3 linked regions of the Homo sapiens genome follow. The gene in region 2 interacts genetically with the main gene of each other region. Each region holds a gene or a part of one and is shown on either strand. Other genes may lie near its edges. The genes, in order: GBF1, TMEM131L and PTAR1.

Evidence for each region.
Region 1: changes in TMEM131L (region 2) and GBF1 together harm fitness more than expected from each alone (negative genetic interaction), as found in Homo sapiens cells (one study listed by BioGRID).
Region 3: changes in TMEM131L (region 2) and PTAR1 are lethal when combined (synthetic lethality), as found in Homo sapiens cells (one study listed by BioGRID).

Annotation. Positions count from the first base shown.
Region 1 is NC_000010.11:102,360,375-102,364,031, reverse strand, and holds part of GBF1 (Golgi-specific brefeldin A-resistance guanine nucleotide exchange factor 1), read right to left. Parts: coding exon 3,637-3,657; intron 3,011-3,636; coding exon 2,912-3,010; intron 2,315-2,911; coding exon 2,120-2,314; intron 1,558-2,119; coding exon 1,368-1,557; intron 777-1,367; coding exon 636-776; intron 323-635; coding exon 234-322; intron 1-233. UniProt on the Homo sapiens protein: Guanine-nucleotide exchange factor (GEF) for members of the Arf family of small GTPases involved in trafficking in the early secretory pathway; its GEF activity initiates the coating of nascent vesicles via the localized generation of activated ARFs through replacement of GDP with GTP.
Region 2 is NC_000004.12:153,602,236-153,605,892, reverse strand, and holds part of TMEM131L (transmembrane protein 131-like isoform 1 precursor), read right to left. Parts: coding exon 3,555-3,657; intron 3,352-3,554; coding exon 3,166-3,351; intron 2,591-3,165; coding exon 2,441-2,590; intron 2,092-2,440; coding exon 1,463-2,091; intron 1-1,462.
Region 3 is NC_000009.12:69,708,905-69,712,055, forward strand, and holds the end of PTAR1 (protein prenyltransferase alpha subunit repeat-containing protein 1), read right to left. Parts: 3' UTR 621-3,151; downstream 1-620.

The sequences.
Region 1 (3,657 bases), on a different chromosome or scaffold from region 2:
CAACTGGTACAGCATTTGCGCAGGGGCATACATAGGGTATGCTCAACTACATAGCTTAGGAGTAAGGGAAGGGCTTCAAATGGGAGTTGCTGAAGTCCCAACAAGCCCAAAGACTGGCCTCAGGAAGCTGTACAATGAGGTGCTAGACTCTCCTTCATCTTCTGAGATGGAAACCCTACAACACTGGACACCCAGACAGAGGTGGACAGAGGCTGGGGAATACATGTATGTACCTTCTTTTTGTTTTTAATTTCAATTAGTTCCCGTGGATCTGGCAGGAGACAGGAAAATCGGGGTGGCTTCCGGGCAAACTTTTTGTCAGCTAGGAGTAGGAAGAAGAGGGGGGAAATATCTGTAACACCTTTTTTTACCCAGATAAGGACTTTTGGAAGGTCACCAATATACTCCCCAGTTTCAAGAAGGAGCCTCAGAAATCTTGTCCTCACCAGTCTTCCACTTCCCTGGAAGTCCTATCAACTGAGGGTCCATATGTTTGCTTCCCTCTCTCTGAGTCTGAAGGCGAGGCGGGCTACCAAGGCTTGCTTAGTTACTATCCTAGGTGTCTGCTCCCTCCCTCTGCTCTTCACCAGGCCCTCCAGGTGAGGAGCTTAGGGTCATGGACACCCAGTACCCACCCCCAGAGTCAACAGCTTCCTCCAGATCACTGCATCCTGATTTCCCATGTTCTGGTGGCAGCCGCCCTCCACCTGGCAGATGCAGGCCTGGGATGTCTGAGGCCATGCCTACAGCTTTCCCATCGCTGGCAGTTCTCTCAGCTGGTAAGAGAGAAGAAGATACGTGAAGACTTATAGGGTATGAAGCCAAGCAGAGCTGCAGGATAGATCAAATCCCAAGCCCAGAAGACCTGCATGGTTCCTGCACAGGGCGCCAGCCCTGAGCAGGACAAACCCAAGCCAAAATAAGTAGTCCCTGTCCCAGCCAAGCATTAGATTCTCTAATTTAATGAAGAGATTACCCAGTCACTTTCCCTGATCTTCTGCAACCTCAAATTTCAAGGGGGAGCTAGAGAGGACTAATTAGAGTGGAGGCAGATATTGGGGATGAGGGATGGTGGGACCTGGAGCTTTCAGAGACAGAAATCCTATATTCTTTAATCTCTGTTCTCTTCTCTTGCCATAAAGAAATAATAATTCTGTAAAAAACCAAAGTGGGGAGGAGGAAAAAGGGAGAAGGCTATGAGTTCTACTAATCTGCCTGACTGGCCTGTGATTTAAACTGCCAAAGCCCAGAAACAGAATTGGGAGCATCCCAGGGGAAGTGATATGGGGACAGGAAAAACGACTCAGAGAGTAGAGAAGGGATAAGCATAGAACACTGGGTTCATCAAAGAAAGAAATGCCTCTCACTATTGCTAGCTTCTCGGGTGCCATCTACTATCTCACAGCTTGGTCTGGCTGTCTCCTTCTTCTCTTGCTGGGTGAGGCTGTTGAGGACTTTAGCCTGGCAGTGGGCCTCGGTGCTGTCAATCACTGTCAATAGGGCATCAAGAGATAGTAGGTGTGTTGTATAGAGTTGACCAGACACAGGGAAGGCATTCTGGAAAGTAAACAGATCAATTGGACTTGTAGTTAGGAGAACACTTTACACTTTGATCATTTTCTAAAATTTCCAAAACTTCTTCTAACTTGTACATTGCCCTTAGAAAACGTCTTTCTGGCCGGGCGTGGTGGCTCATGCCTGTAATCCCAGCACTTTGGGAGGCCGAGGCGGGTGGATCACAAGGTCAGGAGATCGAGACCATCCTGGCTAACATGGTGAAACCCCGTCTCTGCTAAAAATACAAAAAATTAGCCGGGCGTGGTGGTGGGCACCTGTAGTCCCAGCTACTCGGGAGGCTGAGGCAGGAGAATGGTGTGAACCCGGGAGGTGGAGCTTGCAGTGAGCCGAGATCGCGCCACTGCACTCCAGCCTGGGCAACAGAGTGAGACTCCATCTCAAAAAAAAAAAAAAAAAAAAAAAAGAAAAGAAAAGAAAATGCCTTTCTTCTATTTCCCAGCTCTCAAGTGTTCCCCTCTCTGTATGTAACATCCTCACTACCACCAGGGAGATTTCCTTTATAATGCGTTTTTTCCTAGAAGCCAGTTATAGTGCTCAGCACCTTGGACAGCAGCTTTGTGAGTTCCTCAAAGAGGTTGGAACAGTAGTAGTCACAATCATAGTTGATGTAGAGCTCTGTGACAAAGCTGGGGATGCGCCAGAGCTGCACAATGGCCTCCAGTGCCATCTCCTTCATCTCATAAGGCATCTTGGGGTTCTCCACAGTGATGATCTCCATAAGCTTTTTGATGTACATCTGGCAATAACCCAGTAATTGCCATTTGGGTGGGGAAAGGATTCAAGATAGGAAGAGAAAAAATTAGACAGGAAAAACATTAAACAGGATGCAGAAGCCCAGCCTAGAGGCATGTATTAAGAGACACCCAAAGGTATTCCATCCCCTAAATATATCTCTTCTTTGGCCTCCATGTTGGGGGATAAGGCCTGGCTCTCTACCACATACCTGGTCCCAGACAAGTTGCCTCTTGCCCTTTTGTGCTATGTGAACATGACCTGGTCCTATTTAGAGTTCCTTTTAGCAATTTAGTGACAATGCTGGCTTGACTTACCTACCTGTGTTGCAGAGTAACTGCTGGGCAGAAGAGCTGTCCCTATTCATGGTAAGGTTACCTGGCAGTTCTCATATTTGGGGTCAGCCAGTTTCCTTTGGTCTCCTTTTAACTTTTCCACAAAAGAGGCCAGTTGATTGAACCGAACTCTGGAGGCTAAAAGGACTCTCCTATAGGAAGTCCCTAAATCCTACCCCTGTAGCATGATAGAGCTGGCCCCACTGAAGATGCCATATATCTCCCTATTTTTTTTCCCCCTTTTCTTTCCACATCAAGAAACTCACCTCCATTTGGAACTTGAGGTGCTCTCGCATGCTCTCAAACAGTAGGAAGCATACTCGCAGGGAAGCAGCATAAAGGTTTAGTCGCTCTATGCTGAGTAGCTGGAGATGAGAGCAGGGTAGGCCATGAGTTTTTTTTTTTTTTTTTTGAGGCGGAGTTTCACTCTGTTGCCCACGCTGGAGTGCAGTGGCGCAATCTCAGCTCACTGCAACCTCTGCCTCCTGGGTTTAAGATATTCTCCTTCCTCAGCCTCCCAAGAAGCTGGGATTACAGGCGCACGTCACCATGCCCAGCTAATTTGATATTTTTAGTAGAGACTGGGTTTCACCACATTGGTCAGGCTGGTCTCAATCTCCTGACCTCGTGATCCGCCCGCCTTGGCCTCCCAAAGTGCTGGGATTACAGGCGTGAGCCACTGCACCCAGCCCGGCTGTGAGGTTTCTGAAGCTGACTATGGCTCAACCAAGAGAGGCAGAAGAGGCAAACTGAGTGAAGGTGTCACTGAGGTCCATTGCTTCCAGGGAACTCTACATCTAGCCATTCCTATATTTCTCTCTGGCTGCCAGAGTCCCTGGGGAACTACTGGAACCCTCTTACTAAAACTACTAGCCAACTGGGAGGGAGATGCTTTCCTAGGTCCTATACTCTTTGCGTAATCAGCCAGACCTCCCTGTGTTCCCCTGGCCCTTGAAAGAGGCTCTGAGACCCTCTAGCAATCTTGTCTTACCTGGAATAAGTGACGGCACAT
Region 2 (3,657 bases):
CTCAGAGGACTCCAACTTTCTTTTAAATTAGAAATGTCCTTATACAGAACATTTAAAATTCAGTTGAGGATTTTCACCAAATGCATAAAAGCTCATCAGAAGTAGTCAATCCATAATATTTCTGTACCTCTTCTCCAATATCAAGAAGTGAAAAAGATGAAGTTATATTTAGATGCTTCAAATAAGACAAAAGGTGACTGAGTTTTCCAGATTAAAAATTGTCAAAAATCTGACCATAGGCTGGGAGCAGTGGCTCACGCTTGTAATCCCAGCATTTTAGGAGGCCAAGGCAGGCAGATTGCTCGAGCTCAGCCTGGCTAACATGGTGAAACCCCATCTCTACAAAACAGTACAAAAATTAGTTGGGCATGATGGCATGTGCCCGTAGTCCCAGCTACTCAGGAGGCTGGGATGGGAAAATGGCTTGAGCCCCGGAGGTGGAGGTTGCAGTGAGCCAAGATTGCGCCACTGCAGTCCAACCTGGGTGATAGAGCCAGACCTTATTTCAAACAAAATAAAACAAATCTGACTATAACAGGTACAGAAATACGTATATTCAAATGGTCAGGGTGGACAAAAAAAGAAAATAAATAAGCACAGGCCCTTATGCTAGAGGCCAAAGGGATCTATTAAAGGATAATGACAATTCCCAATGGAGGTCATCCTCCTAGTCTACTTTGGCTTGTATTTTCCTTAACTGTTTTTGGTACATGAGAACATCTGTCTTCTTTTAACCAAGGAATACAATTAGAGAAGAACCAGGGCCAGGCAACCTGAGATGGTGGCAGCTGTTAAATAAAATAGCTGAAGTTTTGTTCAGTCAGAAACATTTCATGGGCTGATTAATTTTTACAGATAGTCTGAAAATCTGAGCTAAAAAAAATAATTTAGGCCAGGTTCGGTGGCTCACGCCTATAATCCCAGCACTTCTGGAGGCCAAAGGGGTGGATCACTTGAGGTCGGAGTCTGAGCCCAGCCTGGCCAACATGGTGAAACTTCGTCTCTACTAAAATTACAAAAATTAGCCAGGTGTGGTGGCACACACCTGTAATCCCAGCTACTCGAGAGACTGAGGCAAGAGAATCACTTGAACCCAGGAGGCGGAGGTCACAGTGAGCCAAGATCACACCACTGCACTCTAGCCTGGACGACAGAGCAAGACTCCATCTCAAATAAATAAATAAATAAAATTAGAAAAAGGTGTCCATGTCCATCCCAACAAGAAAATATGATATTCATAGTCTTCTAAACTTATGTACTAAAATTTAAACCTCTTAGTCACAACATTTTAAAAGCTTGATGTCTTGTCTTGAACTTTTCATTTTGTCTTTTTTCAATATTTAAACCTTTGCTAAAACTCAGCATCCACAATTAAAACTAACGGTCACAGGTGAGAACAATTCCATTAAAAACAGACTGGGTACAAACAGGAGAGAATTATCAAAGGGGATGAAAAGATTACCATTATTTTTCCTGGAAATTTCTGGCAAGTCTGGCTGGTGGTACTGAGGTGAGTTTCTTGGTAAATGGTTTTCAGGTAGTTTCTTGGAGGTCTTCAGTGGACAGAGCTCCCGTTCCTTGAACTCGGCTGTGTTCTCTGAAGTTTTAATGTCAGTTTCCTTAGGAAACATACATGTCTGTATTCCCTCCTTCATACTACATTCTGAAGAAGGATTACTGAAAACAATTGTGTTTTTCAGTGTGTTTTCTTCTTTATTCAGTAAGTTTTTGGGAAGGGTTAAATTCTTCTGCAGGTTGACATTTATGCCACTTGCATATCTGAGGCTGATCCAGTTCTCACGCATGGCATCAGTGCAAATGTCCTCTTTAGCAGCAGGCAGTGAGCTGCCCAGGGGTGAAGTCTGTTTTTCCTCAGTAGTCGTGCTGGTGCTGCTGGCCGCAGCTGTGCTGGTTTTGTGTTTACTGTAATACACTGAGCATTTGTGCTTCTTCTGAGAATGACCATAGGTGGCTGGGCTCCTCTTTGCAGCATTCTGGATCCTGCTTTGGGGAGTGTTCACTGGAAGGCAGTTCTTCCCCCTGCCTTTATCAGAGGGGCCATATGTATCGAGAAAGTTCTTGCAATTGCTTCTGAATTTAAGAAGAAAAACATTTAGCATAGAGGCAAATCAAATCAAACTCTACTTGTCTGCTTCCATATCCATGAGAAAAGGGTAGCAATCAGTACTGAGTGTAAGTTTTACCTTCCCTTCTTCCAAAGCTCCAAGAGTTTTCTGCCAATGAGAATACCCATCAACTAAGTCCTTGCATGGAGACTATCTCATAATAATAATGGGGCAGCTGTTCACATAATGACTTAAAATTTTATGAAAGCAAATGTAGAATCAAAATTTATGTTTACTTAAAATTAAATCAGAAATGAGTAATATCAAAAGTGAGAAACCGCCCCCGCTCCCAACCACACTATAAGAATTCTTACTTGTAAGAATGGGGGCTGATTACATCCATAGGACCATTGTTTTGCTGTGAAGAGGAGCTAGCATTTTGCCTCTGTCTTGTTTTCATGAATTCCATGAGAATGTACTGTGCTTGTTGGAAGGCTATTAAAATCACACCCAACAGGGACAAACTGAGGAAGAAAGCAACAAGGTTCAGTATTGCATGGTTCTGACTGGCATTCAAAAGACTAGTTTCATTACAGAAGAGTGGGGAATGATTTACGAAAAACATCTGAAGATGCAGTATTAAAATTCCCTAAGATTTATCACATAATTTCTGATGTTCCTTAAACACACACACAAAAGTTTCCAAAATTGTGCATATTTATAAATTTGACATTACAATTCCATTTTTATGAAATCACTCAAAAAGGGTCATTCCAGCCTCCTAATCTCAAATCATCACTGCATGAGCTAACACAAGTAATTAACATTCATATCATCCACCATGACTGCCTATGAACACACTATATATGGAGCACAACTGTCTATGATACTTCTAGGTCCTATGACTCTCTTACGATTAGTTTACTATAACCTTAAAGTGTACCAGTGAATACTTCATGGATGTCACAGTTCTTGAAGCAGTAACAATTCCACTCAATTCATATACTTTGACTACACTCGGGCAGTTCACGTTTTCACACAACTTGCCTGGATGACTTCTCTACTCAGTGAGAGAACAAGGGAGACAGTAGTGGTTTACCTGACAAAGAAGACCGTGAGCCTCCAAAATGACTCCTCCCAGCTGGGTCCTGGAACCACGTCTGCACACAAGGGCAACAGGTGATGAGGGAGAGTCACATTGAGAGTGAAGCGAAATTCTAGGTCCGCTGCGGTTACAAGACTTAGGTCCCGAATTACCCAGGAGGAGGTAAAGTCTGGAGTGAACCTGAAAATAAAAGAGTCATCTTTATGAACTTTTAATTGTTTTGATTTTAGCCACAAGGCAAAATAATGACAACACATCATACTCCTACAAAAGAAATATTTACATTAAAACAACATAAGATGTCTTAACAATAGAAAAAGTTTTCCTCCTCACATTGTTAAACGCACCACAAAACTGAAATCAAGTTAAAGCCCAATGCTTACACAATGCTGATATCGCGGGATGTGTTTGGGTCCAGGGAAAACTGATGACAATCCAGCACCTCGAATCCATAACCTTGGCAGTTATACCCATTAATTTTCAGAG
Region 3 (3,151 bases), on a different chromosome or scaffold from region 2:
ATAAATTTGATATCCTGTTTCCTACCCAAAATATACATAATAGTAGTGCATTATATAAAATGTAATCCTAAATAGTCAAGGGATAAAGTAAGATAGGTCTTTCCCATAACACACTTCTGAAATATTTAAAATTTGAGTTAAAAAAAGTATCCACTTTATCAAACACTTTTTGGAGTCTATCTATGTATTATATTGTGTAAGTAAGACCACTATATCTGGCTTATAACATACAGAAGTGAGACTCAGGATTGAGAAAACATAGGATGTAACACTAAAATAACCGAGTAATTATATGTGCTCTACAGCTTCATTTGAAATGGATGGGAAAAAGCGTATCTAGTCATAATAACTTTTATAAGGCAATTAGTCACTGTTAATACAATTTAAAAACAACTGTGGCGATATCTCTAATTTGTTTTTGACATTTCTTTTATGTTCTAGACATAGTGGCATTTTTATTCTTTCTACAAATGTAGGTCATAAAATTATTGGTTTCATTTAGACAACAGTTCACACCTCCACCCCCCTACCACCATCAAAGCAAATAAAATGGAAAGCTTGGTAGACTAGACTCAAGTTTAAAGCACCAAAAGTAAAAACAAAATCACACTTAACACTCATTTTAGGAGATAAAAGGTTTACTTAGAAATTGCAAACATTTAGCAAAGGTAAGACAAATACTATTTTCCATATTCTACAGAAATACAATACTTTATAGCTGGCTTGGTACATGGTCACATAAGAACAAATCTAATGGAAAAAGAATATTTCATTCTACTTTTCTGCCACTTATCACAGTGTAATAAGTGCCAGTAAGTCCTGGAAGACAGTTGCAGAGGAAGATTAGAATCCCAGGGCTGTTTGTTAATATACATGATTATATTGTAAGAATAATATAAAAACAAAATAGGTAAGATATACAATTAACATGCAATTTAAGCTATATTATTTTGAAGAAACAGGACAGAATTTAGTGAACGCAACTTAAAAATTTGTTAATGTAGTATAATCAGCATATCATGGTATTTTACATGGTATGGAATTATTCCTCCTTAATAATGCTTGGCAAATTGGAACAGGCTGATCCTACTTCTAGAACATATTAAAATGAAGATGAAGGAAAACAAGTGGATAATTCTATTAGATGCTTTTCTAAATATTCTGAATTTTTAAAGTACCATAATTACAGGCCTACCTCACCATCTCCAAAGTTAAAGTCATATTTTATACTCTATGAATCTGTACTGTCCAGTATAGTAGCCCTTAGCCATATGTGACTACTGAGCACTTAAAATGTGGCCAGTCAGAATTGAGATGTGCTGTGAGTGCAAAATACACTCAAATCTAAGACTTAGTATGGAAGAAAAAGAAGATAAGGTGTTTCATTAATAATCTTTTATATTGATTACATGTTGAAATGATATTTTTAATATACTGGGTTACATAAACTGTTATTAAAATTAATTTTGCTTGTTTCTTTTTTAATATGGCTACTAGAAAATTAAAAATTATGTTGTGGTTCACATTATATTTCTGTTGAACAATGTGGACATAGATAATCTACAGTCATTACATTAGCCTTAGAATTTAGCATCATACTTTTAAGCACTCTGGGGTACTAACTTGAACTCCCAGAAACCCATAAGCACACTCTGCATATAAATTATTGCAAAATTCATTCTTATCTCTCTGAAAGATATGCATTTTAAGGGTAAAAAGAATTCACAAAATATTGAATCCTTAACAAATGTCAATTAGTATATGGAGAGAGCTAAAGGACTTCAATGTAGACTGTTACATTGGGGAAAAACAGATCAAGAAACATAGCAGTACAACAGAGGGAAGACCATTAGTCTCTTCAGTAAAATAGTTAGCCAAACTTATCTTTAATGGCCAATGCCTGACCCTGCACCATAGATTATATATGTAACTTTTCCATTTAAACATAAACTATAAGAAAATCTTAAAACAATATTGACGGCAGCTTACTTATATCTTCAAGCAATGTAAAATTAACAGGCATGGTTAATTTTAATGGCAGAATATAGTAGCTGAGAACTTCTTTTAAATGAAAGCTCCTCCATGTTAAATTATGCAATTGACTAGTGTCCACAAAATTCGAGTCAAAAAAAAATTAGACGCTATTAAAATCATAACTGGCCTTTTTTTTTCTCCCTCTCCTTTTTTAATCTTTTGTAGTGTATAAATATTTGGCATACTTATAATACCTCATCTTTTATTTTTTCCAACTCAAAAACAGTAAGTTAATCTAAGAATGCATTCCATTATTTTCCTAAAAACAACATATGCCAAAGTACAATACTGACAGTGGTCACCTCAGTCAGCAGCCAGCATCGAAGTCATGCATCAAGAACCTCGCCAGGAGGCAATGCCTAATTACATTTGTACTATACACTCTGTTCCTCACAGTTCAGGTAGGAATGTTTATTTGTGTTTTATAAAACTGTTTAATCTTTTTACATTAGGTAAACTCTGTCAAAAATGCTTTGAAAACCACAAATTAACAGATGCTGAGACTACTGTATCATTCACAAAAAGTTCTTCCTCATGCCAAAGATGTTCTGAGAAAACAAGCAGAAGTTTATTGTAACTTCACATTTTACCATTACCACTCTTAAGACGCTAGAAACAAGTAAGATTTAAGGAAAAATAAAAAGAACCTAAACCCGATAGTACTGGATATACCAATACAGAGACTGATTGCAGAAGACTACAGCAGTTCTCTCTAGAGTTCAGCCAGCTGCTTATTAAGACATTTAATTACATTTATTAATATGCCTTGCACAAGAAAATACTACTTAATCTTTCACATCTCCTATCTTTCAACTATGTTCTGTATAAATAATACTTCTATTACGTTACTAACTCCAGCTTAAATAAGCCTCATAAATCATGTCAAATGATATAATTTCAAAATTCCACACATATATTACTCTACAAATATACTCCTTGGTGAAAAGATGTCAACAGTCTCCTTTCTGAAAGCTGTTAGTTTGATGTTAGATCAATCACTGACTAAGCATTTATTGAGCATCTACTATAACTGTACCCAGTCTTTAACTAATAAGAAAAAAATACCTGCTCCAAATGCAAGATGATATTTGTAAGGGAGGATAATTTATCAACTTTT